2 separate regions of the Homo sapiens genome follow, and region 2 is linked to region 1. Evidence: fine-mapped expression QTL. A gene starts in region 1. The other region holds a variant in brackets. All regions are shown on one strand. Distances are between the middles of the regions.

Evidence for each region. PIP is the estimated chance that this variant, and not a neighbour inherited with it, causes the effect.
Region 2: its variant is fine-mapped to the expression of FAM131B in whole blood (INTERVAL, PIP 0.97).

What each region holds. Positions count from the first base shown.
Region 1 is chr7:143,355,520-143,371,593 of GRCh38, reverse strand. FAM131B (family with sequence similarity 131 member B) reads left to right here and starts at 8,881. Exons shown (of 7, transcript NM_001031690.3): 1 at 8,881-9,018; 2 at 11,445-11,554; 3 at 11,827-11,862; 4 at 12,175-12,268; 5 at 12,570-12,767; 6 at 14,171-14,314; 7 at 14,572-16,074. The coding sequence starts at 8,991. The coding sequence ends at 15,044. It overlaps FAM131B-AS1 (FAM131B antisense RNA 1), which reads right to left and starts at 9,888. Exons shown (of 3, transcript NR_183342.1): 1 at 9,537-9,888; 2 at 8,337-8,404; 3 at 7,329-7,693.
Region 2 is chr7:142,547,168-142,563,241 of GRCh38, reverse strand. It overlaps TRB, TRBV11-3 and TRBV12-3. Among named protein-coding and RNA genes, the nearest start is that of MIR11400, 81 kb to the right of the region's middle. The variant CA/A (reference allele first, on the strand shown) is at 8,327.

The DNA of each region.
Region 1 (16,074 bases):
TGCCCAGGCTGGAGTGCAATGGCATAATCATGGCCCACTGCAGCCTCTACCTCCCAGGCCCAAGCAATCCTCTCATCTCAGCTTCTCAAGTAGCTGGGACCACAGGCATGTGCCACCAGGCCTGGCTAATTTTCTTTTTCTTTTTGTAAAGACAAGGTCTCCATATGTTGCCCAGGCTGGTCTTGAACACCTGAGCTCAAGCAATCCTCTCACATCAGCCTCCCAAAGTGCTGGGATTACAGGCATGAGCCACCACGCCTGGCCCTTCCTTAATTTTTCTTCATAGTAATTATCACCTTAAATATATCATTCCATCCTGGGTTTTGGCACTCCCCCACCAAACAATTCAGTCTCTTAATTGTTGTATTGCTGTTTCTGCCCCACCACTTCTCACTAGACTATAAGCTCCGTGACAGCAGGAGTTTTGGATCGTAGAACCTAGAGAGGTACTGACATAGAGTAGGTAGGTGCTCCTTAAATACCTGTAATATGGAATGAATGAATGAATAATGGAAAAAACTAACAAAAAAAGACAAAGAAGGAGCAGCCGGAAAGTCAAGAGGAGAACCAAGAAAGAGTGTTTGGGAATGAGGGAGTAACCATGAGTCCCTCACGAGGGTATGAAATGCCCCTGATGTGCCACTTAAGGTTAGAAATGAACAAAATCTGTTAACATGGAGGCTAAGGGTGTTACTGGAAAGAAGTCCCAATCCAGACCCCAAGAGAGGGTTCTTGGATCTCGCACAAGAAGGAACTCAGGGCGAGTCCATAGAGGAAAGTAAAAGCAAGTTTATTAGGAAAATAAAGGAATAAAGAATGGCTACTACACACACAGAGCAGCCCTGAGGGCTGCTGGTTGCCCATTTTCATGTGTGTGTATTTTTTTAAATTATATGCTAAACAAGGGGTAGGTTATTCATACCTCCCCATTTTAGACCATAAGGTAACTTCCTGAGGTCGCCATGGCATTTGTTGGCGCTGGTGGGAGGGTAGCAGTGAAGACCAGAGGTTACTCTCGTCGCCATTTCGGTTTTGGCGGGTTTTAGTCAGCTTCTTTACTGCAACCTGTTTTATCAGCAAGATCTTTATGACCTATGTCTTGTGCTAACTTTTTATCTCATCCTGTGACTTAGAATGCCATAACCGTCTGGGAACACAGCCCAGCAGGTCTTAGCCTTGTTTTACCCAGCTCCTATTCAAGATGGAGTTGCTCTGGTTCAATTGCCTCTGACAGGGGAGCCCCCCGTGTGAGCTGCTTCAGTAGAGTGAAGATGCCAGATTGGGTAAGTTGAGGAGTGCAGAGAAGTAAGGAAATGGAGAAGATGAGTGCCGGCAGCTCTTTCAAAAATTTTGGCTGTGAGAGAAACTAGAGCTCCAGGAAGAGAAAGATCAAGGGGCAAATTCCAGCTCCCACCTTAGAAGGAAGACATTGCTTGCATTCCTTGGCCCTGCCCCCAACACAGTTTTCCACCATCAGTAATAAAATTCAGGCTTGACTACCACTAGCCACCTCATGCATATACATGAACAAAGAGGTTGGAAAGGAAATTCTTCTTTAAGTTAAAGAGAGAAACACCCAGCACCTGGCGTTCAAAATTTCCAGTGTCCTTTGGACCTTCCTGCCTGTGTGGGTGCCCTGGCAGGATAATTGTGATTGATTGATTCAGTGAGTGAACAGCTTTCAAGTGGACCCCCACCCAGGAGAGCAATGCCTTGTCCCTATTAGCTTATCACCATCACAAAACCTTAACCAAACGGTGGTCTGAACCTATACACTAGGATTAAGTACCCATTCTTAAATGAGCTCTGAACTCCTAAGTTAGAAAGAACAATGGTCTTTTTTTTTCTTTTAATTTTATTGTGGTTGGTAAGAATGCTTATGAGGAGATCTACTCGCTTAAAACTTTTTTTTTTTTTTTGAGACGGATTCTCGCTCTGTCGCCCAGGCTGTAGTGCAGTGGTGCGATCTCAGCTCACTGCAACCTCCACCTCCTGGGTTCAAGCAATTCTCCTGCCTCAGCCTCCCGAGTAGCTAGGACTACAGGTGCCCACCACCATGTCCGGGTAATTTTTGTATTTTTAGTAGAGACGGGGTTTCACCGTGTTGGCCAGGCAGGTCTCGAACTCCTGACCTCAGGTGATTCACCCTCCTCGGCCTCCCAAAGTGCTGGGATTACAGGCGTGAGCCACCGCGCCCGGCCAAAACATTTTTTTAACCTGTTTTATCTGCAAGAAGTTGAACAGTCTCCATAAGCAAAAAGATTATGAGGCCTGAGCTTATTTCAACAGGGCTTAATGTTATAATAAAAGTCATAGAAAAATAATGTAACATAGCTTTAGGGGTGCATCTTAGGATAGGGAAAAGAATGTTAGACTAAGAATTAGAGGACCTGAATTTTGGTTACAGTTCAGCCACTTACTAACTCAGCCACTTACTAAGTGTGTGACTGTAAAAATCTGAGAGGTGAATTTTCCTTGTCTGTGGAAGTACAGCAAGGAACTTGATTTCTAAGTATTCAACCAGTTTTAACACTCAGTCATCTGTAACTAATGCCCTATATATCCACCACTCTTTCACTGTCGGGAAAATGCCTTCACTGTTTTTTCTCTGGACTTGATTGGCTCACTTAAATAAAGACATAGCCAACTGGAGCTACATCTACCCACTATGTATTAAACACATTATTTAGGAACAGGATCAGTTGCAGGAAAGGATAAAAGGTTTCAGGTAGTTAGACTTTGTAGGTGAAACAGATCTCCGTCCAAACAAGTGTTTGTAAGAGGAATCCAAGCTGAAGTTGCAGGATATCCCAAAAGCTAGCAAAGGAAAAGAACTGGGGAACTCAGAAGGAAAATATATCCAGGAATCTGAGAGGTAGGCTGTCAGCTGTGCCTGGTGATAGAGAAGTCTGACAGGTAGTAATAGAGCCTCAACCATCAGGCTGTGGTTCAGAGGCAGAAGCTGGGGAGGATGGCTTGTAAGCACAAGGCAGGAGCTCTCTCCTAGAGGAATGTGCATACAGGTGAGGGCTAAAGGGTCCCAGCAGGGGAGACAGGGAGGCTTCAGAGGTGTGATATGACATCTGTTGCCCCTCTCCCCTGAGTTCATAAATACTAGACAGGCAGGCATCGGAGACAATCAGGACAAGCCTTCCAGTTCCTGGTTCTCATTGGTTCTCCATGGAGGAAGGAATATAAAACTGGCAGATAGGCCTACTGAGGCTGGAACAAACAACTGCCTTGTATTCTTTATTTGATCTTTCCCTCTCTTTGTCAGTGCTCTGGGATTGGCTTGACCTTTAAAAATCCCATCTGGTTCTTCTCTCTGGGATTTATGAACTCCATTTTTTACTACCCACCTGGCCTCTGACTCATGGTTGCCCAGACTCTATGCCCTGCCTCCTTGGTCCTGGCATCCTGCCTGGTCGCTGCTGCTTGTGGCCTGGTCATGGTGAGGACACCCTGAGGTGCTGTGTGTGCTTGGGACCTGACCAGGAAGCAGCAGGAAAGCGCTGACATTCTTCCAGGCTCTCTGGCAGATATGCAGGCGCGATCTGCTGGCTTGGCCTTTCTTATCAGAATGTTTGGATGGAACCCCTAAATCTGCAGTAGGGGTTGCAGGCTTTCCCACAAATGTGCTTCCCAAAGAAAACACAGGGCAAATGCATCCCCTTGGTCATCTGAAGCATAGGCTCTATGACAGTCACCAAAGAAGCAGTTGTCTGGGCATTCTCTTCTGCTGAATCCTACAGAACGTGATTTGGGGACGTTGACCTGCCCATGCAGGAGGGCTTTGGCTCATGGAGGTGTGCGCCTGGGGACTACACTAAGGAGAATGTGCCTGCCACGTTTGCCCATGCCGATAAGCTTTCTTTCTTTCTTTCTTTTTGAGATGGAGTCTTGCTCTGTTACCCAGGCTAGAGTATAGTGGCGTGATATTGGCTCACTGCAACCTCCACCTCCCGGGTTCAAGCGATTCTCCTGCCTCAGCCTCCTGAGTAGCTGGGATTACAGGTGTACACCACCATGCTCGGATAATTTTTGTATTTTTAGTAGAGACGGAGTTTCACCATATTGGTCAGGCTGGTCTCAAACTCCTGACCTCATGATCTGCCCGCCTTGGTCTCCCAGAGTACTGAAATTACAGGTGTGGGCCACCGTGCCCAGAGATAAGCTTTCTTTTCTAACTAAAAGTGGGAGTGAGCTCACCTTAGATCCCCAATATTTTACAAGATTTCAAACCTTGTCTAAAAGTCAAATGAGCATGTCCTGTGCTGGTCTCTTTCATAGTGTCCAACAGATCAGAGATTGGTAATGTGAGGGCTTTTTGTCCCCACCACCAACGCTGAAACCACAGAACTTCTGCCATGGACCCTCTCATCCTCTATAACTAACTGGCTGAGCCATCCTTCCTCAGCAAACTTGCTGTGCCCCAGCACAATGGCCAGGACCCTCATCTGTTGATTACTCTGGGAAACCAGCTGGGGATGGCAGGTAGGGGTCGGGGGAGAACTATATCGACCACTAGGACAGATTCTATGGCCACTTCCTACTATGTGGGAATACAACTTACACACTACAAACATCTGCACTCATCCATGACTTGCCTCTGAGTCTGCCCCTGTGTATGAATGGGGTCCCTTGTCAGCAACCTAATGCCCCTAAACCCCACTCTTGGTCCTCCTGTTGACTGAATATTTAGGAAATCATTCTCATTTTAAAGAAAACAGACCTCAGGCTAGGTGCATTGGCTCACACCTGTAATCCCAGTACTTTGGGAGGCCAAGGCGGGCAGATCGCCTGAGGTCAGGAGTTCGACACCAGCCTGGTCAACATGGTGAAACCCCATCTGTACTAAAAATACAAAAATTAGCCAGTCATGGTGGCGGGTGCCTGTAGTCCCAGCTACTCTAGAGACTAAGGCAGTAGAATTGCTTGAACTTGGGAGGTGGAGGTTGTAGTGAGCCGAGATCTCACCACTGCACTCCAGCCTGGGTGATAGAGTGAGACTCTGTCTCAAAAAAAAAAAAAAAAGAATACAGACCTTTGTTACTGACCCTCGTGATTTCCACCTAGTCCCCAAGACTATTCTTACCAATGTTTTCCAGCATCAGCACTCTCACTTCTGGCCTTTAGCAAATAGGGTATTTGAGAACCACTAGGAGTGCCCCAAAGCTGACTGATCTTCAGGGCTGCCTGAAGATAGATACTCTAACACCATACAAGGACATTGATAAGTAGGGACTAAGACACTTATCATCAGTATTTTATGAAAGCACCAAAGACTTATTGCTACAAATCACTCTGAAGAAAGATCATTGCTTTCCCATTTCAAAATTTAGAAATGTAGATAGATGTATTCCTCTCTTCAGTTTATGGTCCCACCTTAATTAAAAAAAGACAAGCGTGAAAGAACGTGTATCCATTCAAATGTCCTGAGTTGAGTAACTTTAGTTTTTTTAAGTGAACAAATAAAGCACTTTCTACAACATCCAGAATAGATTTTCCCTCTGAGGAGCTGAGTTTAAATGCTGGCTTTTTTGGCCAGGTGCGATGGCTCACACCTGTAATTCAAGGACTTTGGGATCCTGTGGCAGGAAGATTGCTTGAGGCCAGGAGTTCAAGATCAGCCTGGGCAATATAGTGAGACCCCCATCTACAAAAATAAAAATTAAAAAATTAGTAAGCCAGGCGTGGTGGCTCACGCCTGTAATCCTAACCTTTTGGGAGACCAAGGCGGGTGGATCTCTTGAGGCCAGGAGTTCTAGACCAGCCTGGACAACATGGTGAAATCCCACCTCTACTAAAATAGGCACATACAAAAAATTAGCCGAGGGTTGGGGCACATGTCTGTAGTTCCATCTGCTTGGGAGGCAGAGGCAGGAGGATCACTTGAGCCCAGGAGCTCGAGGCTGCAGTGAGCTTTGATCATGCCATTGCTCTCCGGCTGGGTAAGCGTGAGACCCTGTCTCAAAAACAAAACAAAACAAAATGCCAAACAAAAAAGTGCTAGCTTTTTCTCTTTCCAACTGGGAAATCTTAGGGAAAAGGAAGTTAATTGAATTATCAGCCCCAGTTCTCTCAACTGCAATGCAAGAAGAATATCTTTCTTAGAGGTTTGGAAGAATAGACTGAAAACTCTATTCTTTAAATCAATTGTATATTGATATTTGCACTTTAAAGTGAGTTTTATTTTTTTCTCTATCTCTCTCATTCTGACTCTCAATAAATGATCTTGCCTCCTTCTTGTCAGAGAAAGTAGATGCCGTCAGATGGGAATCCCTCATTCTCCTGACACCAAACATGCAGCCCACTGGCATCTGCCCCGTCTTCCCTGCTGCTGGAAGAAGAGCTGGGCTCCTCCTGTACAGTCTCATCCCCCTCCCTGAGCTCTGCTCCCATCCCTCCAGGTGGTTTTAGGAATTTACATTCAATATTAATTAATCTTCCCCTCTCTTGTACTTTGAGCTTCCCTTTCTCAATTGAATCTTTTCATAGACCTTTAACTTTGATCTAATATATCCCAATAAAATAAAAGGAACACTTGATTAAGTTGTGTTTTGGAGCCATCTCTCCATTTGTGGGGATCAGTGTGAAGCTTTGGTACCTTCTTTCAATCCTGCAGGTACCACCGAAGTACCTACAATTATTCCTGGGGACCCCAGCTTCAAAATGGGATAAGTGTCTTGCCTGATCATTTTATTTGGGGGTTAAGCCCCTGCAGAATTAGAGAACCCCCCCGCCAAGTATGTATTTAAAGTCCAGAAGTTCTTAAACTTTTTTTGTGCCCTGGACCTCTTTGGCAAGGAGACTGGGACAATGGCCTTAACTAGTGAGAAGTAGCAGAATCCTTGTATAAGAAGACCTATAGGGAGCAGGAAGGAAGCTGGCCAGGAATATGCCTAGAATATTTTACTTTTTTTGTGTGGGTAGTGGGGAGGGACTGGAAATACCTTCAAGACAGAATGCAAGATGGGACTGAGTCTCCAAGACCTGGAATCCCTCATGTTAAATCATTTGGATAAATGCAGCCTTATATAGTTGTGTTAAGGAGACCAAGGGGAGAGGTTTGCATCCAAGTTGGAACCACAGTAAGAGATACGTAGTCATATATAAATATATGTATTACTCAGGGAGAGCCATAAGGAGACAGAAGTTTCAGGTGGGAAGGCAAGAGCATAATGGCCACGTGGTCTGTTCCTCCTTACCTGGCCAGTCCCCTGTCAGCGTTTTCTCTGCTCAAACAATAGGGGTGTGTGGGCATTGCTAGAATAATGGAAGCTGTTTGTTCTTTTTTTTTTTTTTAATCATCTCTCCATCTTCTTTCCTTTGCGACTGGACAGTATATTCCATGAAAGCAGAAACTATTTGATACTTCTTTTATATAACCAATAATAGTAGATATGAAAAAAGAAAATGCTTTCTAATTCTCTCCACTATTGAAATAGGGTATCAGACCCTGCCACGAACTACACTAAACGATTAAAATCTAAGCAGACCTGCAACTGATTATTATCTCATTCCTTCCCGCGGTTTTATAGATGTAGATTTGGCTTATTTCTTCATGCACATACACCGAAGATGGATTCTGTCACCATAATCTCATCTCCTCAATCTGCAATTCAGTTGTTAGTGTCTTCTTCTTGCACATCTTCATCTGCCACCCCATGGGATGTAGCTCTCCATTCATAATCTAAAGGTTAGAAAGTTGCATCCATAAGACTTAGCCTCCCTGTTAGGAGCCCACACCAGGGACCCCTGGCCCATTGCCTTCTCTCTCTGCAACCTCGGAGAGACCTAAAAGTGGGCGAGGTGCAGTCAGAGCCTGGATGGGCACTTGCTTCTGTGAATGCCCACCTGCCCACTCTCTCACACTTTGGGCTTTCTGGGTACACCTTAGACAAAAGGGTCTCCTTGCCCTTTCTCATGCATCTTTTCTGGACTCCACTTCTTACCTGCTGTAACCACAGTGCTCATTTAACCCTTGCAACTTAGACCTTCATCTCCTCCCCATGGGGCTTGAGGTATCTACCTGGCCCAGTCCCACTAGCCAGAGGCCAATCTTTCTCTCTCTTTGCTGCTTCGGGACCGCCTTGCTTTCATTTGTCCGAGAAGATCACGTCTCAGAAAAGTTAAACTGGATTCAAGACGATGTCTCCTAGCCAGCCTCGGGTCCTGACATTGTTGTTAGTCTACTGCGAATGAACTGTCCTCCTCATATTCTCCAATCCCCAACCAGGCCTGGAGGTCAACTATCTGCACATCCCCACACCCACCCCTGAATGTCCAGCGAGCACAGAGAAGTGGACTACACGATTCACTTGCAAAGACTTCACCTTCTGTTTGGATGGACAAAATAGCGCACTCGAAACAACAGAGCCCAAAGCTGTGTCCAATCACGTTCCTGTGTGTGTCCCAGATGCGGCCCCAGGAGGAAAACAAGTGTTTGCGGAATTTGGTGGCCAAAGGCCCTTGGGCCTGGCTTTATTCTCACCACCACCCCACTTTCTCTCAGGGCATCCCCTGACCCCGGCCCGCAAAATCCATCAACCAGAACCTCGGGGTAGGCCCTGGGTTCGTGCCTCGGCTCCTGAAACCCAAGCCGGGGTTCTCCAGGAGAGAGCCCCGGGAGCGGGGCTTGGCACGGGCGGGAGGAGGGGGGCGGCGACGGCGGCCCCAGATCCCCGAGGGAGCGCCCCGGCACGGCCGGAGCAGGGGCGGGGAGGCGCGGGGCGCAGCCAATCCCCGGGCCGCCCCCTCCCCGGCCGCGGCGAGCCGAGCCGGGGCGGGGGAGCCAGGCGGCGGCGGCGGCGGCGGCGGCGGCGGCGACGGAGCTGCCGTGGGGAGGGATGGAGAGGGGAGGGGGGAGCGGAGCCGAGCGGAGACAGCCGCGGCGCTGCAGAGCGGCTGGGGCGGCGGCGCGGCTCCCGGTGCTCCCCCCGGCGCGCGCCCCGAGTCGGTGAGGGCCCGGCTCTGCGGCCCCCGGAGCCATGGGCTGCATCGGCTCCCGGACTGTGGGTGGGTACCGCGGCCGGGCGGGGGCAGGGCTGGGCCCCCCGGGCCGCCCTCCGACCCCCTCCCCCATCCCTCTCCTCGCGCCTCCGGGCGCCCCGCTCCGCACCCGCCTTGCCCTGCTAGCTCCTTCACTTTCCTTCCGTCCGCCCGCGGTCCCTCTGTCCCTCCTTCCTGCCCGCTCTCGTCTTGCGCCTCCGGGGCTGCCATCCCGCTCGGCTCGCTTCCTTCTCCCCGTCGCCCTCCCGCAGGCGCGGTCCTCTCCATCCTCTCCATCGCCCTCCTCTCCTCTGCCTCTCGGCCCGACGCTCGGTCCCCTCATCCCTGCCCCTCCAGGCCATCCGCCTCTGCTCCGCCGTCCCCAGCGCCTCCTCGCATCCCCCACTCCGGAGCAGCCCCCCGCGAAGGACCCTCGGCCTCCGCGCCAGCCCCGAGTTTCTTTCGCACGCCCCCCACGCCACCCCCCGCCGCCGCCTCCATCTGGCTCGGGTGCTTTGCCCCATCTCTCTCTCCCTCTCCGTTGCCTTTTACTGTCGTTCCTGCCTCCTCCGATTCGCTTTGTTCACGTGCGTTTTCCCTCTGGGGCGGGGGCGGGATGAGCCCGGGTTCCACGCCCGGAGGGACAGGGCCAGGGCCGGGTGGAGGGAAGGGGCTGGGGGACGCGGGGAGGAGATGGGGGCTTCGAGGCGCTGGGAGGGGTCGGGAGCCCGCGGCCCGGGAGGGTGGGGCCGGCCCTGCCTCGGCGGCCGGGGACCCGCCTGCACCTGTCAGCGGGGGCCGGCGGGGCGGGGCCGGCTCTTTATTTACCTTTGACGCGGGGAGGGAAGAGAGGCGCCTCCTAATCCATCTTCTCCCTCCAGCTTCTGCCTGGCTACCGCCCCTGACCCCCACCCAGGCACCCACTCCACTCTCGCCGCTCAGCGAATTCATCCGGCCCTCTCCCACCCCCTCCCCCATTCTTCCCCTTTCCAACTCCCAATTTCTCCCGCCTACACCTCCCGGTGACCTCAGGCTGAGAGAATAATTCGTATTATTATTACAAACAAACTCACTCTCCAGAAGCCTGATTTCCCTGAGACCCGGTTTATTTCCATGGATACCCCCTCCTCCTCTGCTTTCACCCCTTCTCCGCGGCTCTCTCCCTCCCCGCTGCCCCCCACAGCTCTGACTCAGCTCTCCGTCTCTCACAAAGGCCACCTCCCGCTCCCCTCTCCCCCCGCACCCCGCCCTCCCCTGTCTCCCTTCTCCTCAGGCTCTTCTCCACCTGCCCCATTCCTGCTGTGTCCGGAGGGCCATCTTTCCTCTTTTCCCCCAGTCACCACCCCGCGGAGCCCCAGGGGACAGCAGGCCAACTTTGGAGGGTCCTCCCTCCTCAGTCCGGTTCACCACAAGCCCCTTCCTTTCCCCCAGCCCTGCTGATGTGCTGAATGCCTCCTCGTGCCCAGCCCCATTCAATGCTCCCCTTCCCAAAAATGGAGCCGACCCCTAAACTCACAATTGTAAAACCTCATGAGTATAAAGGGCCTGTACGGTCAGATGGTTCAGGCAGCCATCTGCTGCTTGAATAGTCCCTTTATGAAGACCCAAGCAGTTCTTCCGCAAGACTCTCCGCGGCACCATCCTGCCCTCAGTCCAGGAGTCTCCCTCCACCAGGAGCTCTGGCCCGGCTGTAACAAGGACCCTCCTTCCCCTGAGTCCTGCAGTTTCCCACTCAGCCCTCAGACCCTGTCCACCCCTCCCACCATCTTCTGTCTTCTCTCTGACTTGAATTCCTATTTTCTTAATTCCTATTTTAAAAAGTTCTCTTTTCTCCTCCTGCTCACCAGCTTCCCTCCACTTTAATCCATCACTTCTCTCCCCACAGTCAGGTGAAATGCCTCCAGCTCACCCTTGGTTTCTCTGCTCACTGTTTTTGGGAGGACACACCCAACTCCTTGCTATCCAACTCCTGCCTCGATTCCCAGGAAGTCCTCTTCCAGTCAGTCAGACTCATGGACTCTTAGGAAGGGCCCACCGGGGGAGACACATCCCTTCCACCCTAAGCATAGAGAAAAGTTCCTCATAGAGCAGCTCTGCCCTTATCTGTAGACTTGTAATAGAGAAAAAGCCCAGCTCCCATACAGAAACCCTCCAAGAGTCCTCAGGACGGAATAATTGGTTTTCTGATAAAACCCAACCTCTGACCCCTCCACATAAACAACAACAAATAAGGCCATACATCACTTTTTCTGAGTGCACTATTCTGGGTTGAGCTAAAACTGAATATTTGGGCTCAGCATTACTACTTGTCTCCCCTAGAATTTGGAGAGTGCAGGGATATAAGAGGAAATGGGCAGCTGGGGTAAGGAAGGGGTGTGAAGGGCTGGCCCCAGGGTGTCGCCTCGGCTGCACAGGGAGGTGAGGGCCGGCGGCTAACCTTCTGGCCCCCTCAGGGAATGAGGTGATTGCAGTGGATTGGAAGGGCCTGAAGGATGTCGATCAAATCAACATGGACAGCACCAGCTCACTGCACGGGAGCAGCCTCCATCGGCCATCGACTGAGGTGAGACCTCACTCAGCCACCCCAAGTCTCTGGCTGCCTGCACTTCCTCAATTCCAAGGCAACAACCCAAACACTCCTTCAGACTGACACTTCTACAGAACATTTCTCACAACACATGCCAAGCAGTCCACATGGAGAACCCAGTTAGCGGCATCAACCTCAGGAAAGCCCTCCCCACATCCCGCACTCCTGGAAGGCCCTCTGAGGAAGGGGGCTTCCTTGCATTCCTGCGAGTGACTGGGATGCCCATTCCCTTTCCTCTCTCCTCACAGCAAACTCGAACTGATTTCTCCTGGGACGGCATCAACGTGAGTGCAGCTGCCCCCAGACCTCCCCATCCTCCCGAACTCCTCCTCCTCATCTTCTCCCTTGCACCTTCCAACCAGCACGGTATTCCCTGGCTCCAATAGGCACTGTGAGCACTCACGTTCTCAACCTGTGCCCCAGTTTTCCAGAGCACTGGGGATATATCCCTCCTTGGGACTCTTGGGTATAGTAGCTTTTCTTATCATCTGCCCTAGCTCGAATGCTTTTTCCTGGAAACCATGAACCTCCTCCATGTATAAAGCACGCCCGTACCTTCTTATTCCTCTGCCCTTCCTCCCACATTCCCATCCCAGCTCTCCATGGAGGACACCACTTCCATTCTTCCGAAGCTTAAGCGAAACTCTAACGCCTATGGCATTGGGGCCCTGGCCAAGTCATCATTCTCAGGTGAGACTCCTGATGTAAGAATGCCTTCAGACAAAATAATGCTGACAGACTCCTTGGCTCAGTCTCCCTGCTCCTTCGAGGTTGATGAAGACCCTCATCCCCACCCCCTGACCTATTCACCCTTCTGTCAAGCCTCCCATCCTCCAGGCCATTCCCTCCACTACCCCATCTATGGAGTCCTTAGGGGAGCCTGGCCCAGTGGGATGGAGCCTCATGGGGCTGGGGTGGGAGGAACTGGGAGGGTCTGGTTATGGGTATTGTGTGATATTCTGGAGGATGTGGGAAATGTCTGGCCCCATAGGGATCTCACGGAGCATGAAGGACCATGTGACAAAGCCCACAGCCATGGGGCAAGGCCGGGTGGCCCACATGATTGAGTGGCAGGGCTGGGGGAAGACACCAGCTGTTCAGCCACAACACAGCCATGAGTCCGTGCGCAGGGATACGGATGCCTACTCCGACCTCAGCGATGGCGAGAAGGAGGCACGTTTTCTAGCAGGTACAGGTACCCTAAAGCCTCAAGAGACACATTTGCAGGATGGCCAGGGACCGACCCTCCAACCTGATCCCCTGTGGCAGGATTAGCTCCATCCATACTTTGACCGTAGATTCACATTTCCCAAACAGCTCTAAGTATTTTGATGTGGTAATTCAAATAAGTGCCCTCAAACATATTTTTATAATCATCTCAGAAAATGCGTGTAATTAGATGGGATTTGTGGGTCCACCCATCCCAGATGCCTTCTCTCCTCATCACGGGACTATCCAAACCTGAACTCCCTCAAGTGCAGGGAAAAAAATGGGGAGACCTTGGTCTTTGAAAGAAAGAAAGGCCTTGGGGATCTCTTTTAGCCTTTGCCCTTTAGCATTTCGAGTCATGAATTTGCCTACTAGACTCATTACTTGTGACAACCACTAGAAGATTAAGGGAACTGTGTGAGAGACGGGAGGCCTACAGAAGAGGTTTAGTTCCAGGAAAGTAGTGTAGGTCTGATAACAGGCATGCAGTGTGCCTACAAGAGTGGCCAAGCTGTAGTGCAGGTCTAAATAAGATGCCTAGAAAGGGATAGGTCTGGAAGAGAAAGGAAGTATTGAGTTGGTGGTATGGGTGGGAGGAGAAATATCAGTGAACAGGGTGACAAACATGTAGGGTGGGGGGCAGGAGCAGTACCAGCTTCAACACGCTCATGGATTTGACTAGAATAGGGATCCCCAGGTCTACCCATCCCCTTTTCCTTCCAATCCCTTGAATTTCAGTTTTATATTATGGTGGACCCACAAGCCCACGATGCTCTCTTGGGGGTTCTCTGTTGATCTTGAAATCTACTCTCTAGACTGCAATTCCTAAAAACCTCCAAAGATAAATATCTGGAAATCTCGAATTTGAATCTCTTAGGATATCTCATCAGAAGACCCCTAACTCTTTCCCCTAGGAATCCTAAATCTGATTTTTTAGGAAGTCCCCTACAATTCTCCCTTCTCTGGGGACATACACAAAGGCTGTGCTGTCCAATACATTAGCCACTGGCCTCATGTGGTTATTGAGAACTTGAAATGTGGCTCTTCTGAATGGAGATGTGCTTATAAGTATAAAATACCAGCTGGATCTCAAAGGCTTCATATAAATAAAAGAATGTAAAATATCTCATTAATAACTTTTATTTTGATTATATGTTGAGATGAAAATCTTTTTATATATCGAATTAAATAAGATCTATTATTTCAATTGATTTAACCTGTTTCTTTTTAATTTTAAATGTGGCTACTGGAAAATTTAAAATGATATAAGTGGCTTGCATTATATTTCTACTGAACAGTGCTGCACTAAGATGTTTTCCTACCCCACGCACATGTCTAAGGATTCCCTGAGGTATTTTGTGGTTGTTGCATTTCTTCCCCCAGGCGTCATGGAGCAGTTTGCTATCTCTGAGGCCACACTCATGGCCTGGTCTTCCATGGATGGTGAGGACATGAGTGTGAACTCCACCCAGGAGCCATTGGGCTGCAACTACAGTGACAACTACCAGGAACTGATGGACAGTCAGGGTGAGAGATGTTCCAGAATCCAAACTCTGGAGCCTATGAGGCCTCCCCAACTATCTCAGCTGCCTCCACTCAGCTCCGTTCTTTTAAGACTTCCTTGTCCATCTCAGCTTTCCCATTGTCCTCCCTACTCACTGTGCACTCTGTGTCTTACTGCCAGTTCTCTGTGCTGTCTCTTAGCTGTCTCTTGTGCTGTCTGTGCTGTCATTCCTGCCCTTGACATTCTGTGGCCCCACTGACCTCCATGATTCTTTTTCCAGATGCCCTGGCTCAAGCACCCATGGATGGATGGCCTCACTCTTACGTGTCCCAGGGTATGTACTGTCTGGGGTCGTCAGATGCCTGGGAAGCCAGCGATCAGTCCCTCATTGCCTCTCCGGCCACAGGATCCTATCTTGGGCCTGCATTTGATGACTCACAACCCAGCTTGCATGAAATGGGACCTTCCCAACCAGCTTCAGGATACTCTGCTCTGGAGCCTCCACCTTTGCTGGGGGGAGACACTGACTGGGCTCCGGGGGTAGGCGCAGTGGACCTGGCAAGGGGCCCTGCTGAGGAGGAGAAGAGGCCATTGGCACCTGAGGAGGAAGAGGATGCGGGATGCCGGGACCTGGAGTCACTTTCCCCACGAGAAGACCCTGAGATGTCTACCGCTCTCAGCCGGAAGGTGTCTGACGTCACATCCTCAGGTGTGCAGTCCTTTGATGAGGAGGAAGGCGAGGCCAACAACTAGTTTCCTCCCCCAATGCCCTGCCTTCCACTCCCACCTGAGGGCCATGGCTGTGACCCATACCCTCCCTCCCCCCAGCAGTACAGCTGAAACTGGGCAGACAACATTGGGGAACCCAGGAGCTTCCAGTCCTCTCCTGGAAATGGAGGACCAGGATGGGATTTTATCCAGGCTTACACTCTAGAAACCCACAGGCCTGGGAACTGAGACCTGGGCAACTAGATGGCCGTGAGCTTGGTGTGGCTGTGGAGAAGGACCTGGGCTGTGGGCTTCTGGGTCTGTGCCGACAAAGCCTCCAGTGTGTGCACCCTGAGGACGGGGGCAGCGCAGCTGTGCTCAAGACTGGATCTCAGTTCTTCACGCCCCGATTTCGTCTTCCAGGAGCTGTAACTCTGCTGTCTGAATGCCTCCTTTCTCCATTTCACTCTTGCTTTTCCCAACTCTGTTTTCTCTGGCTGTGGCCCCAGCTCATCCCTACTGAGAGAACAGACCTCAGGGGCTGTTGGACATGGCTGGACAGGCGCAGGGGAGGCTGCCTGAAGGGCACGTCCATGGGGAGGGTGGAGAGGCTGCCTCAGCAGGTCATTTGGCTTCTGAGATCAGGAGTCGAGGAGGAGGTGGATGTGGCAGCTGAGATCTACAGGGGGCACGGATGTGGTTCTTTCTATCAAGGCCTGCCCGGAGACAAGAGAGTCACTGAGGAGACTAAGAACAAACACAGCCCCTTGCTCTGGGATCTTTAATATCCCATGGCTAAAAGGAAGATCCTAAGGATCTGGGAAAAGACCCAGCCAGGGCTGGCTGCTCCAGCTCTTGCTTCCCTTTCAGCTTTCTTCCATCCCTGCTCCGGGAGCCTGAGGAGGGTGTGGGGACACCCATCTTGGATACACCAACGCAGGATGCAGGTGTCGCCAACAGCAGGGGGAGCATGAGGGCTGTCTCCCCTTATTCACCCCTGTCCTCTGAAGCTGTTTACACTTTTCTCTTTGCCTTTTCTACATTTTTATAACTTCTTGGGCACTCAGGGTTGAGT
Region 2 (16,074 bases), 810 kb after region 1:
AGAAAAAACCTGGGTTTATTTATCCTTGAACCATATTGAATTCCCAAAGCCCGTGGAATGGAACTTCTCTCCATTCTCTATTCCCACAATAAAACAGAGGATAAGATTGTCTTATTTTGAAGATTTGCAGCTACAATGTTCTAGTCTTGAATTATATCTTATTACTACCCCTAGAAAAGAAAAGTTCAATGTTTTTTCATCATTAACACCTGACCTTTCCTCCGGCCCCCTGCCAACCCCTTAATCCCACTTCTCCAAACCTACTTCCTCTCAGAGGTTCTGGAAAGCTGAGAGAAATGTTTGTTTTTTGAGTTGATCAATTAACTTACTTGCCATAAAAGGGCATATTTTTGCTCTTGGCACAGAGGCATGCTTCTGAGTCCCATGCAGTTGAAAGCACTTGCCAATGTTAAAGGGCATTAGTTTGCAGACTAGCTTGTGTTTCTGGAGGGGCCTATTTCCCTTTGGGCTCTATCCTTTTGCAGGGTCTGTTGGACCCAGGATACAAAACTGTGGTCATAATTCTGTTTTAAAAAATTTAATTACTTACCACTCCCTGTAACCAGGTACCAAGTGTGGCAGGCAGCATGACAACCTCCCAAAGATGTCCATGTCTAATTCCCAGAAACTGGGAATGTGTTAAATTATGTGGCAAGGGGAGAAAGGAATGTTCCAAATGGAATGAAGGTTGCTAGTCAGCTGGCCTTAATATAGGGAGTGTATCCTGGATTTTCCAGGTGGGCCCAATGTAATCACAAGTGTCCTAAAATGTGGAAGAGGGGGGACGAAGAGTGAGTGTCAGAGTGATGCAGAGTGAGCAAAGGCTCAGCCAGTCCTTGTTGACTTTGAAGATCGAATGGGGCCATGAGCCAAGGAACACTGGTGGCCTCTAGAAGTTGAAAAGGAGAGAAAAACAGTTCTCCCCGAGAGCCTCAGGATGGAATGCAGCCCTGCCAACACCTGGATTTTATCCCGGTTTTGGACTTCTGACCTGCAGAACTGTAAGATAATTAGTTTTTGTTGTAAACCACCAAGTTAGTAGTAATTTGTGTCAACAGAGATTGAATACCTTCTAGTAGCCATGGGATTGATGGGTAAGAGGCAGAAGCCAGATACAAGATACAGGTAGAGACAGATGCATGATCACATGGAAGGAATTTAAAATCAGGCTAAAGGAAGCCTATAATGCAGCTGGGCTTTAGAGAAGTAGGAAGGAAAATGATCTGGAAGCAGCAGGGAGGAATTCTGCACTATTTTCATCTTGAAAGTCAGGACCCACTAATCAAAAAAAAAAAAAGGAAAGAAAAATAGGAAAATGACACAGTGGAATTGGGCTTATGGCAGAGCTCCAAAAAACCTCAATGGCCTTGGGCACTCAAAATATAGGGGTCTTTTGCCTCAGTTGTCAATGATACCATGATAGGTATTTAGAAGGAATCAGCATGTAAATATGAATATCACACAGAAATTATAACCACTCAGAATGGATTGCAGGTATTGTATAGAAACTTCTCATATAAATAAGAAGGAAAATGTAAATTTGTGTGTTAAGGACATATAATCAGAAAGGAAACAGGGCAACAGAAGACTGGACATGCCTGTCTGCTTTTAGATACCCCAGTGTGGGTCCTTACCAGGAGGCGTCATCAGTGCTCTGTGAGTGTGCACAGCCTTTGGCCAGCACCCGGCTCATCTTACGCAGAACAGAGACAAATGGATCCTTAGATTCCAGGCCAGGTAGCTTACATCTAGTGTACTAACCTGCTTGCTCTAGCCACATTTGAGACACTCTTTAGGAGTAGTGAAAAATCCTGAAGTAATGTAAAGTTGAAATTGGCATTATAAAGGAACGTCCACAATCATAGTAAAGAAGAACTTTCTTTTACAATCTAGAAAACGTGTGAGGGAAATTTCTGTTTGCAGCTTAGAGTTAGGAGAGAATGAAGAGGGCCTCACAGTTCAGAAAATGCAGCCCTTCTCAAGAGCCCCCACCATTCTCATGGGATGGCAAATGCAGGAGGGCAGGGAAATCTCCAGTGTCAGTAGCCAAGGTTTATCTTACTCCTATGTGTTTTGAGCAGAGACAATTTTTAAGGAATCCTCAAAACCCATTTTGTAATCCTCAAACCAACATAAGGTTTCCTATGTTGATCCCTTCTCATTTTCTGTCTTTTTCATACCCCCAAACCACTTTTTTCTCATAGGGAGGGAGGAACAGCAGAGACTTTGCCCAGGACTGCTGGGAGGTAGAAGGAGAAGGGGAAACACCGGGTTTTCTGCACAGGAAAGGGGTGATTCTGCAGCGCTGTGGCTAAACTGCTGGCACAGAAGTACACAGCTGAGTCCCTGGGTTCTGAGGGCTGGATCTTCAGAGTGGAGAATGATGCATTAGGCATCTTAGCTGAGAATCGATCCTCGGGCATCCCTGAATCATCTATCGGAACGTTGTTGTTAAAGTAAATGAGCAACTCCAGTCCCCGCATCATGGTCTGTCTGTACCAGAAAAGGGAGTTGTGGCCTGAAATTGGTTTACATCTCAGAGTCACTTCTTGTCCCATCTCTGTCACCTCATGGCGGGGTGACTGGATAACTCCAGCATCTGTATGCTCTATGAAAGAAGACAGAATTGGGCGTCAGAATAAGGAAAATATATGAGATCATCCATGCAGAAGCCCAGCCTGATGATGGCAAATATTCTGAAGACTCACTCGCTACCAGGATGCAAAGGGACACACAGCAGAAGGTCCAGGAGTCCATGGCAGAGTGAGAGCAGATGTGGAATATTCTAGACCAGGCCCTCTGTGAGCATGAGCAAAGAAATGAATTTTGTGACATTTTATCCCCACAGAATGCATCTGTCAGTGACATCACTGAATGGGCCACCACCCCCAACTTCTTTAAGAGGAGGCTGCATCTCTGGGAGATGAATCAGGCAGGAATTAACTCAACTATAATTGGTGTGAAATAGAGATGCACACTTGCAGAGGCTCCCTGGATATTTGTTTTGATATTATCAATTCACGGTAGCTTCTCCATAACATGCCTTACATAGGAGCCTGCCAACTATATCCATCTGCACCTCAAATGGCAAGTATTTAAAGATGAACTCATTGTCTTATTTCAAGCCAGCTTCTCTGCAAACTCTCCTCTTCCTCTCACTGGTAGCTTGGTGCTTCTAGTCCTTTATATGTACTTAAAGTATCCCTCAGTGAGTTAGGAGTTAGACATCTGAGAAGACGCATGTCAACTGCATTGTTAGGGATACAAGAGCTGAGCTGATGACCTGAAAACTGATTATATTTGAAGCTCTTCTCTGCAGTGAAAAACCTGGGTGTGTTTATCCTTGAACCATATTAAATTCCCAAAGCCCATGGAATGTAACCTCTCTCACATTCTCTAGTCCCACAATAAAACAGAAAGGGGATAATATTGTCTTATTCTTGAAGATTTGCAGCTAAAATGTTCTAGTCTTGAATTAAATCTTATTACTACCCCTAGAAAAGTTCAATGTTTTTTCATCATTAACACCTGGCTTTTTCCCCTGTAACCCCACTTCTCCAAACCTACTTCGTCTCAGAGATTATGGAAAGCTGAGAGAAAGATCTTTTTTTTGGGTTGGTTGGTTAAGTTACTTGCCAACAAAAGAGAAGGGCACATTTTTGCTGTTGGCACAGAGGCATGCTTCTGAGTCCCCTGCAGTCAAAAGCACTTCCCAAAGTAAAAGGGCATTAGTTTGCAGACTAGCTTGTGTTACTGGAGGGGCTATTTCCATGTGGGCTCTATCCTTTTGCAGGGTCTGTTGGATCCAGGATATAAAACTATGGCCATAATTCTGCCTTCAAAAAGTTAATTGCTTACTACTTCGTGTAACCAGGTAGCAAGTGTGGCAGGCAGCGTGACGACCTCTCAAAGATGTACATGTCTAATTCCCAGAAACTGGGAATGTGTTAAATTATGTGGCAAGGGGAGAAACGAATGTTCCAAATGGAATGAAGGTTGCTAATCAGCTGGCCTTAATATGGGGAGCGTGTCCTGGATTTTCCAGATGGGCCCAATGTAATCACAAGGGTCCTAAAATGTGGAAGAGGGAGGATGAAGAGTGAGTGTCAGAGTGATGCAGAGTGAGCAAAGGCTCACCCAGTCCTTGTTGGCTTTGAAGATTGAATGGGGCCATGAGCCAAGGAACACTGGTGGCCTCTAGAAGCTGAATAGGAGAGAAAAATAGTTCTCCCTGAGAGCCTCGGGAAGGAATGTAGCCCTGCCAATACCTGGATTTTAGCCTGGTTTTGGACTTCTAACCTCCAGAACTGTAAGATAATAAATTTTTATTGTTGTAAGCCACCAAATTAGTGGTAATTTTTGTCAATAGAAATTTAATACCTTCTAGTAGCCATGGGACTGATGGGTGAGAGGCAGAAGCCGGGTACAAAATACAGGTACAGACAGATGCATGATCACATGGAAGGAATTTAAAATCAGGCCAAGGGAAGCCTATTCAAAAACATATTCTTATGTCTGCCCAGGCTTCATCTTCTTCCAGGAGACACACTGGACTATGCCTCATACGTGGATATGGTCGTGGCATCACTGTGATTTTCATCTCCCTGGCGACAGGGTCCCTCTGCTGTGGTCCTGGGTAGCACCTCCCTTTCTTGCTGTTCTACTCTCACAGAGCAGGTAGGGTTGGCCTGGGCTGGTTTGGGGCCAGGCTCTCCAAGGCTCTTTTGACACAAGAACTGCTTCTCTGGTTTTCCAAGCTCAGAACATGGGCCCTGCACCACCTCAGCTCCTTGTGCCCCTACATCTTAAGCGAGCTCAGAGGTATATGCACTGCAAAGTACACCTGTCACTCAGCCCCACTCAAAGCACAATTTAAAGCAAAACCCACCTCTACAATGGAGGAAGCGTCGGTTACTAATTCCTTTATTCCCAGCCATCATTCAAGACATCTGCAAACCAACTCCCTGAATTTAGGTCCAACCTCGGGGTTATTCTTAACCATCTTCCAGGGAGCAATCTCAGCTCCTCCCCATAGACTCTGGATGACATCGAAGCCACAGTGCCTCCTAGTGGCCAGTAGGCCAGAACAGCACAAATGTGCTCTCTTTTGCCAGGACACAGGGACTTGAGCTTTATTTCACTGAGTACAAGGGATATAGGATATTATGATTAGTTGGTGTTAAAAGGCCAACAAATAATATTAGTGCTATGGGGTAGGACAGAAACACCCCAGACATTGACAATGCAGTCAGAAAGGTGGAAACATAATGTCAGTTTTAATACTGATAAGCAGCAGGTCTCATTGTGAAACTCGATGGGCTGGCTAACATGATGCTGAAACAGAATTTAACCCATTCCCTATCCCCTCCAAACTGCAGGCCACCCTGCATGGAAGAGAGAGTTCCTCACTGATCTTAGCACATGTTGAAAATAATCTACTTTTCTCTAGGGAACCAGGAGGAAAACGGGAAAATAAGGAGAGACTAAACTAAAATGAAGAGAGGAAATAGTATAACTGATTTCCCTTCTGTAGAGAAGATTTGGCAAGGAATAGGAAGATTAAAACAGGATTATTACTTTCGGGGTGCCCCACAAAATGGGGTGTGTTGTCCCAGGAGATTGGCTTTAAACGGGGTAAAACAATAGCCACATATCAGTTACTCCCTCTAATTTTGACCATTGCCCCAGGAAATACTCATAAAACAGCACAAATCCACCCCCAGAACTCAGTAATTAAATTAATTTGAAGCCCAATCTGTACTATTTGACCAGATCTCAGCATTCTCTTGATTGTCTTTCCCATCTTGCCATATGGTCCAATGGAACACAGAGGTTATGTGATAGAAATAAATAACAGTAGAAGAATACTCTAAAAACAACATGCCCCAAACAAAGATATGTCTCAATTGGATTATGAATGGTCTTGATAAGTTTTTTTAAAGTATTTGATATCAGAGTTTAACATCTCTATACCATTTAAGTTGAATATTAGACAAATCACAAAGAATCTAACATTAAAATACAAGGAAAATTAGAATTCCAGGTAAAGTTATTTTCACCTTAATCCCAATAATTAAGGATAATGGCACTCACTCTTTCTGTTGTTATCTACATAGTTGGAAAAAAAATATCAAAAACAACATTAAAAATTTTAGTTAAAGTCCTAAAAAAATAATAATAATTTGGCTGGAATGTTGGTGAGGGCAAGAGCTCCGGGAGGTGAGCACAGCAGTCCATTTGCCCTAGCGGGCATTTGCAGATCCTGACTCAGCACTCAGGAAGCTGACTCACAGGCCACGGGGGTAAAGGCAAAGCCCAGAACATACCGAACGTGTCATTGCCAAATTCCACTAGTAACAATAAGCCAGAGACAAACCTGTTCTCCAGATGCTCCAGGACACCTCAAGCCTTAAACTGTGATTCAGGGAGCCTGACTGTTTATATCTACATGCACTTTCAGAAGCACAGAAAAATGATCTCTGCAGAAAAATATCCATCCTACCCCCAAAATTATTTCTACAACTATAGTGTTTGGCAAAGTGTCAAACATCATCAGATTGGTAAGGAGAAATACAAATGCCATGAAAACTCAAGCACCATAACTGAGAAGCAGCACAAAAAGAAAATCACAAAAATATCCTATGAAGATCTTAGAGGTGAAAATGATCAGACAGACTCTGAAACAACTGTGTGTCCTATATTCAAATAATAAAAAGTGATCTCAGAAAATGTTATGAGGGAGTTATTAACTATAACTAACATAGCAGATTGGGAAAAGAAAAAAATAGAAATTTTGACAAGGAGATGGTGAGTGAGTGGTCATTTTAATCCATCACATCAGTGAGGTTTTATTACAGGAATAAAGGACAGGGAGATGTGCAATGAACAAATGGAAATAAAGCCTGACTTGCCATCAGGTATTAGATTGGATAAGGAGGGGAGGGAAGTCAGGAGGGGCAAATGGACAGTGACAGTGCTTTCAGACAATTTCCAGTATGCTGCTTTTTAAGTAATTCTAACCAATACTTCAGAAAGATTTCTAGTATTAGAGAGTTTAGGCAGAAGTAGAGTAATGAATATGGAGCTAGACACACAGAGTGTATATTATCAGAGAGGGCAATTGATTGCTTCAGAAGTTCTTACAAGGAATATTTCAATCCACTAAGGAACTTTTAATATACAAGGCAGACACGTAGAAATGTCCTCTGAACTGACTGGTCCAGGTCTAGATATATTCTTGGGCTGGGATGATTACATAGAAGAGTTAGAGAGTTCAGGAGAAGTAGAATTCATGTGGAGCTAAGATTTGCACCTGGTTGCCGGGGTATCCATTTGTGTGCATTTCTTTGAACTGGAAAAAGGGCTGAATAACATACCTGAAATTATAATCACTATCATTAACAACATCATTATTAGCATACTTTACCAAAAATAAAACAGAAGGAAAAAGATTTCCAAACACATACTGTGTGTTGAGACTTTGCTAGACAGCCGGGGTGTCACTAAGGGTAACAAGTCATTCACATGCTGACAACTACATAAGGGGAGCCTGCTGTTTGCTGCTTGGTATAATCACTATCTGTATTATTAAGTTTATTGTACATGTTTCATGATCACATACTTTTATGGGAGATAAACCATCACTACCCCTGAGGACTCAATCTCTGATAAGTCACTTTAGGTTTCTTGAGTTGTCCCCAAGAAGTGTTTCAAATCCCTGAGACACATTTTCAAGCAACAATTATAGCGCTCATGTTGTAAGAAATAGTTCATTTCCTCCCACTATATGAATCCTAGCTATATCTGAAAACTCACTTCTTTCCTGGGAGGATGAGGAATAAGGAAAGGCTGCTGTGAGCTGAGTAGAGAGGAGAGAGTCCTGCGGTTTTCTGCACAGGAGGGAAGTGTCTCTGCTACACTGTGTCTAAGCTGCTGGCACAGAGATACACGGCCGAGTCCCCAAGCTCTGCAGGCTGGATCTTGAGAGTGGAGTCTACTCCTTTGAGCCTCTCTGCAGAAAATCGATCCTTAGGCAACTGTGAATCGTCTACTGCTTCCTCATTCTCATATCGAATCAGAAGCTCCGGGCCCTGTCCCAAGTTCTGCAGGTACCAGTAAAGGGTATTGTGGCCAGAAATAGGATTGCACCAAAAAGCCACAGGCTGTTTTTTCTCTATAATCTTATATCTGGGAGACTGAACCACTCCAGCTTCTATGAGTTCTGTGGGGGAAAAAGAATTTTAAAATAGAAGGAAATGACTAGAATAATCACTGGGAGATTATGTGAGGATCATGGTGTTCCTAGGACTCACCTTCCACCAGGAGA[CA/A]GAAGGCCACCCAGCAGAGGAGCCTGGTACCCATGGCAGGGTCAGGGCAGGATGGAAGCTTTGCCAGATCAGGGTCACTGTGAGCAGGAGCAGAGGAAGTGGGATGTTGCTGTCCTTACAGAGAAGTTCCTACAGTGACATCATTGTCTCCACAAATGCTTAAGTTCTTAGAAAACAGTTGTTGTAAACTAAAACAGAGCTAAAAGTTTGTTTAATGTATTCATAGACTGGAAGTTCATCCAAGCGTCCTCACTCACATATTCAGGGCTTGGGGGATTAGATCTGTCACTACATCTCTAGGCCTATCCTGTGCTAGATGTTTCTACGTGGAAGTCTCAAAGGCAACTCAAAATAGATATATCAATTAGTGACCTCTTGATTTTATGTGTAATTTTCCTTCTCTTTGGGTATTTCTTTTCTACCAGGTCCTCCATGCTCCCAGTCCTCTAGGGTAATTGACACAGCTTTATCCTAGAACTGCATTGAACTAGCTGACATACTCTAACCTAAAGGGGTAAAATAATTCCCTGAGCACAAAGTTGGGAGGTTTCATTTTATCTGAAGGCCAATGACTAGTTCCCTTTTTGCTGTTATCAATCTTCATTATGTATTATGTATCAAGCCTTCACTATGATTCTGCCTGTAGTCTCTGGTCACCAATGAATTGAAAGTAAGTTCTGATATCTTAACCCAAATGGATGAAGAACACTCTAATTCCTGAAAATATCAGGGTGAATATCTAACAATAAATGCAAAATTGAGCAGGACTTCTGGGATCTAAAACACTTACACCTCTATCATATTTTACAATTGAATTGCAGTGTTAGTATCCAGCAATTTTTAAAAAATTATGCAACATTAGTTAAGACACACTTCTCCTTATCTGAGTGGTAGAGTGGGAAGGCTTGAGGGATTGGAGAAGTCCTGAGAATCAATATGAATGAACTAACCAATGACATGTGTGTTCAGAGAAAGGGAATAGTACAACTCAGCCTAAAGAAATCCAAGTTCCTAAAACCTAGGGGACACATGTCAAGGTTATCAGGTGAAGACCTGTGAGTGTAGAATTATCAGAACCATCTCTTTTCCATATAAATTGTCTATCATTGTGGTAGAAAAGCTGCTAGTCGGAGCCTGCCTTATATTGACACCAATTAATAATTTCATGGTGGAAAGTGTCTTCACATCACAGTGTCACTACCTCTTCCATCCGTGTGACCAGAGCTTAGGGCCCTGGATGACAACAGCATTGAGAGAGTGGAGGCTGGGTGGCTGGAGACAGGACCTATCAAGCTGCATGTGAAATACTTGAAATTGGGGCATCCTATTTCTAGGAAAGACATTCCCCAGGTATTCTCATGCCTCCCCTGCTTCCTGAGCACCAAAACAAATGAACAAAAAACACCCATGATTGTGTCAGGGCCCAAAGGGCCGTCTCATTGCTCAGGGAAGGAAATGCCAGAGTTCTGGAAAATCTGGTTCTTGTTAAGAATATTTGTGGTGTTACTGCAATTTGAGATATCTGGAAACATCTACAGTTGTCCACTCCCATCTTCTACATTCCCCTTACATTCTCCTGTCCATCGTCCAGGACACACTAGAATAGGTTAGGTGCTAAGGTTTCTCTGATGTTCTCCCAAGGAGGCACTTGTTCCTCTGCATGGGTCTGTGAGCATTCAGGTTGGCTCCTGGCTCTCCTCCATCTACCCCTCAAGTGGGCTCAGAAGATTCTCCACTCAATGGTTTGCTACAGTTCAGATTTCACTGCCGAACAGAACCCACTGGCATCAGTGGAGAAAGATGAGTTTCCATTGACCACTCAAAACACCTGCAAACTAGATACTGAATGCTAGGATGAAGCCACACTTTTCCTTTAAACTCAACTTCTCAGGCAATACTTAGCCCTGTTTCAAAAACATTTGGACGCCATCAAACCTCAGTGCCTCCTGATGGCCAATGGTTCAGAGCCACTGGGCTTAGGCCCTCCAGCCATGGCTCAGGGAGAGTGGTGGGACTTCTAAACAATGGAAATTAGATCAGGGCTACTATCAGACAGTGTTTGTGGGGGACTGAAGGGAATTCATTCCAGCTCCATGTGATCCTTCTGTCCTGCTAGAGACTCCTCCCCACAGACAGTGTTTCAGTCCTGCTAGAGCCCCCTCCCTGTTACACAAACACATATTATCCAACCACAATTTAGGACAAGCACTACCACTCCTCTGCTTACATTCAGGCAATTCCCCAACATCTGTGAGTTCTTGACCAACCTGTAGGGAACTCAGAATCTCCTGTTTCAGTTAAAACAGTCCTGTGTATTTACTAAACAGCTTCTTGACATGCATTGTTAGCTAAGTTTTGTGCTCATCTCAGAGATATCAGCTATTTTGTCCTCAGACTATAAATTCTCTTATCTTTTGGGGGGACTTTTAAAAATCATAGCCTGTCCCTATAGAAAAAGTACACTATAGGGCTAAAAGAAACCTTATCTTGTGTGTTTGTTTTATGGTAATTATAGAATATTTCAAAGATATTGAAAATGAATATAATAAATAGCCACCACAAAACTGAAATCATGCCAACATTTCAAGATCTTAAGATTTTTTTCTTCTAATTTTGTTTAAAAAACTGACACTTTTGGAAGAGCTGAATCATACAACAAAGAGAATATTAAAATGTATTTCAATTATTAACATCTTTTGACATTTGCTTTATCTCTTTTTGTGTATTTTACCCTCAATTTCTGAAATAAAACACTTTATTCTTAACGATTCAGTATGTCTCTCCTAAAAAGAGGCCATTATCTTAGAAAACCACAAATGCCTTTATTACACTCAAAAACTTAATATTCATATAACATTATTTTCTCATATATGCTTCACATTCCCCTTTCTCCAGTTGTACCAATGTGTCCTTTGGTTTTAATTTTTTTTCTACAGGACATTATCAAAGATTATGCATTTCTTTTGGTTGTCAGGTCTTTTTAGCTACTTTTAAACTAGACATCTCTTTGGCCCACTTATATTTTCCAACTTTCATGGTCTTGATTTTTGTAAGAGTCCATGTCAGCTGACTGGTAAAATGACCCCCAATCAGAATTTCCACATTATCAGAGGTTAAATATTTTGGCAAATACCATGCCATAGTTGATGTGTGTTTCCCATTGCATCCGATCAATTACAAGAACATATAATGCTGTCTTTACACATTTTTGGCGATACTAAATTTAACATCACAGACATCAGATCTCTCCATTGCAAAGATATCATTTATATTTTATAGTTAATAAGCAATTAGTGGAGTGATACTTTGACACAATATAGATATCTTGGTCTCCAATAACCTTTCAGATGTTGGTTTTGACATCAACTGATGGTCTCTGTCTGTAACTACATTAATGGCTACATTGATTTTCTAATGAAATTTAGTAACTAGCATTATTCTGTAACGAAGACATTCTTACCTACATCTTTTTATTGTCATTATAGCCTTATAGATTTTTAAAATTTGTTATAATTCAGTGTCCTCATTATTATGCTCTAATGTTTAGATACTCGTGTTTGGCTACTGGGAGCCCCATGAAACTGGTTCTGTGGCTTTTTTCTATGTTTTCTGGGTCATGAAACTTCCTTGATTTCTGCCAAAAGATGTTTTTGACTTTCCCTGCTCTGGATCTAGAAGAAGCCATTTCTGCTTTGTTTCTTTTAGAAACATTTAGAAATTAAATAACATGCAATAATTCTGCCCATTACTACTGGGAACACAAGTACAAAGAAATAAAGCAATTGTCCATCGACTTCATATTGCTTCTTACATATTGTATGGTTAGAGTTAGGAAATACATAATTTTTAAATAATAAGTTCATATTGATACCTCCAATTCAAATAAACACCGCAGATTTCTTCCTTGTCTTTCCCTATTTCTTATTGTATCTCTCTTCCCTTTGTAAGAACTCTGTTTCCCAGTAATGTCAATGAATTTACTTATTCTCTGTTGTACAGTCTATTAAAAATGTTTCAGAATATGCACTAAAAACACTAACAGCGACAAATCTCCCAAGTGAAGTTCAACCCCAACCTCATTTAGCCTTACAATCATAAAACTACTAAAATCTAAAGACAAAGAAAAACTAAAAAACAACTGGAAAAGAAAAGCCATTGCCTCCTAAGAAGATATACAAATGATCAATAATATATGAAAAGATGCTTAATATCTAATGTTTAGGTCTTCTATCTAAGTTCAGTTTATTACATGCAACATGTTGGAAAAGCTCTTTGACGTTGGCCTTGGCAATGATTTCTTCGATATCATACAAAAAGTTCAGGCTACAAAAGCAAAAATAAATGGGACTAAATCAAACTGAAAAGCTTCTGCACAGCAAATTAAACAATCAACAACATGAAAAGGCAACCTATGGATTTGGAAAAAATATTTGCAAACCATATGTCAGATAAGAGATTAATATACCAAATATATAAAGACCCCATACAACTCTTTGGCAAGAGAACATATAACCCTATTTAAACTGAGCAAAGGACCTAAACAGACATTTCTACCAAGAAGGCATAAAAATGGCCAAGATGTTCAATATCACTAAATGTTAGAAAAGTGAAAATCAAAACTGCTATGAGATAGCACCTCACACCCATTAAGATAGCTATTATTAAAAAGATAAGTTGCAAGAGTGTGGAGAAAAAGGAACTTTTATACACTGTTGGTGGAAAAGTAGATTGATGCACTCATTAAGAAAATTAGTGTAGATGTTCCTAAAGAAATTAAAAATAGAATTATATGACCCAGCAATCTCTTTTCTTGGTATATACACAAAGAAAATGAAATCCCACCTTTTGGAGACATCTGCACTCCCATGTTCATTGCAGCATTATTTACAATAGCCAAGATATGGAAACAACCTAAGTGTCTACTGATGGACAAATGGATGAAGAAACTGTGGCATACATATACAATGGAGTATTATTTGATCCTAAAAAAAAAATGAGATCTTGCCATTTACCACAACAAACATAGATGAACCTGGAGGACATTAGGCTAAGTGAAATAAGCCAGACACAGAGAAATAGTGTATATTATTTATATGTGAAATTTGTAAAAACTCAAATATACAGAGAGAATGAAATAGTGGTTAATGGGAGGATGGCAGGGGGAGGGAATAGGAAATGGGAATATTTAGGCCAAATGATACAAGATAGCAGATAGGCAGGATGAAGAAGTCTAAAGATCTAATGTGCCACATGAAAACTATAGTTCATATATTCAGAATTTTTTCCAAATGAGTAAATTATATCTGTTATTGCCACAGGGAGTAAATGGGTAACTATGTGAGATGATGGCTATATTAATTTGTTTCACTATAGTAACCATTTTCCTATAGGTGTGTATCTCATCATGTCATGTTATGTACCTGAAGTATACATAATACAATTTTCAAATTTAAAGTAAAAGTTCAAAAAAAGATGCTTAACATCATTAATTATTAGGAACATGTAAATCAAAACCGCAATGAGGTATCACTTCGCATTTACCAGCATGGCTGTAATAATTTTTAAAAAGAAGAACAAAACAGAAATTAAGTGTTGGCAAGGCTGTGAAGAAACTGGAAGGCTTTTACACTGTTGTGGGAATATAAAATGCTGAGGCTGCTGTAAAACACTGTTGGGCAGTTGCTCAAAATGTCAAATGTAGAATTCCCATGTGACTCAGCAATTCCACCCCTAGGTATACACCCAGAATAATTGAAAGCAGGAAAGCAGACAGATACTTGTAGGCCAGTGTTTATTGCAAGATTATTTATAATAGTCAAAAGGTGGAAACAACCCACAAGTCCATCAGCTGATGATGAGATAAACAAAATGTGGTCTATACACACGATGAAGTATTATTCAGCTATATAAAGGAGTAAAATTCTGACACATGCTACAATATGGATGAATCTTGAAAGCATTAGGCTAAGTGAAAGAAGACAGACACAAAGGGAGATATATTTTATAATTTCCCATCAATTAACTATCTAGAGTTGGTAAATTCATATAAACAAACGGTAGATTAGAGGCTACCAGAAGCTGAGAAGCATGGGAAAGATGGAGTTATTGCTTAATGGGTGTAGTTTCTCTTTGAGATCATGAAAAACATTTGGAAACAGCAGTGATGGTTCTACAACCTTGTGAATGTACGTGATTCCACTTAATTGTATATTTTAAAATTGTTAAGGTGAAAAATTGTATGTTTTATGTACATATAAAACATTTAAAAATTAACATTTAAAAACTGTGGTAATATGTATTTTATATTTGTATATAAAACTGTGGTAATGTATATACTATATATTATATATATATATGTAAAACCATGGTTATACATATATGTATAACCACAGTTTTTAAGTGTTAATTTTTAAATATCAATTAAAACCTTCAAAATGGCTAAAATAAATATTGACAACTCAATTCTCCATGATGGACCCTAAAGACAATGAAAGGAACTCAAGTAATTTAAACACACAGTCATCTCTTAGTATCCTGAGGGGATTGGTTCCAGGAAACCCTGCTGATATCCTAATCCAAGGGTGCCCACCTTCCTTACCGTCAGCCTTTGGTATCCTTGGGTTCCAAATCAGCTGATATAGAGGGTCAACTATATTGCTAATTTGTTTCAAAATGTTGCTTGTCAGAATATATCTCAGAAAGGGTTTTCTGATATAATTATTGTATTAGTCTGTTTTCACACTGCTATGAAGAAATACCAGGGACTGGGTAATTTAATTTATAAAGGAAAGAGGTTTATTTGACTTACAGTTCCACATGGCTGAGAAGGCCTCAGGAAACTTACAATCATGGCAGAAGGAGAAGGGAAGCAAGGCACGTCTCACATGGCAGCAGGACAGAGAAAGAGAAGGGAAAACTGCCACTCATAAACCATCAGGCCCTGTGAGAATTCACTCGCTATTAGGAGAACGGCACAGGGAAAACCACCCCCATGATCCAATCACCTCCCACCAGTTCCCTCCCTTGACACATGGGGATTACAATTTGAGATGAGGGTGGCGACACAGAACAAAACCATATCAGTTATAATTTTCTTCTGTAGTATAATACAGTTCCACTAGTCCACATCTTTTCTCATATTTGGGACTATCATTTCTTTGAAGACTTTCCAGTCTTCAAAATCTGATAAGTTTGCATTCATAATTTACTGTTTCAGATTGGAATACTCTGATTCTAAGTGAGGTTAAGAACCTATTCTTTTTTTTTTTTTTAAGACGGAGTCCTGCTCTGTCACCCAGTCTGGAGTGCAGGGGGTGATCTTGGCTCACCGCAACCTCTGCCTCCCAGGTTCAAGTGATTCTTGTGCCTCAGTCTCCCGAGTAGCTGCTGGGACCACAGGCACATCCCACCATGACTGGCTAATTTTTTGTATTTTTTATAGCTATGGGGTCTCACCATGTTGGCCAGGCTTGTCTCGAACCCCTGACCTCAAGTGATCTGCCCACCTCAGCCTCCCAAAGTGCTGGGATTACAGGAATGAACCACTGCACCTAGCCCAAGAACCTATTTTTATGTTAGTGTTAATTTATGTTTACTTTTCTGTGAAATGCCTATTTAGACTAAGTATTGCCATTTTATTGGATTGTCTTAGTAAGTTATGAGAATGCTTTACCCATTGTAGATACTAACTCTATTAGATAAGAACAGCTATGCTACAGAAAAAAAAATAAAAATAAATCTTAAAATC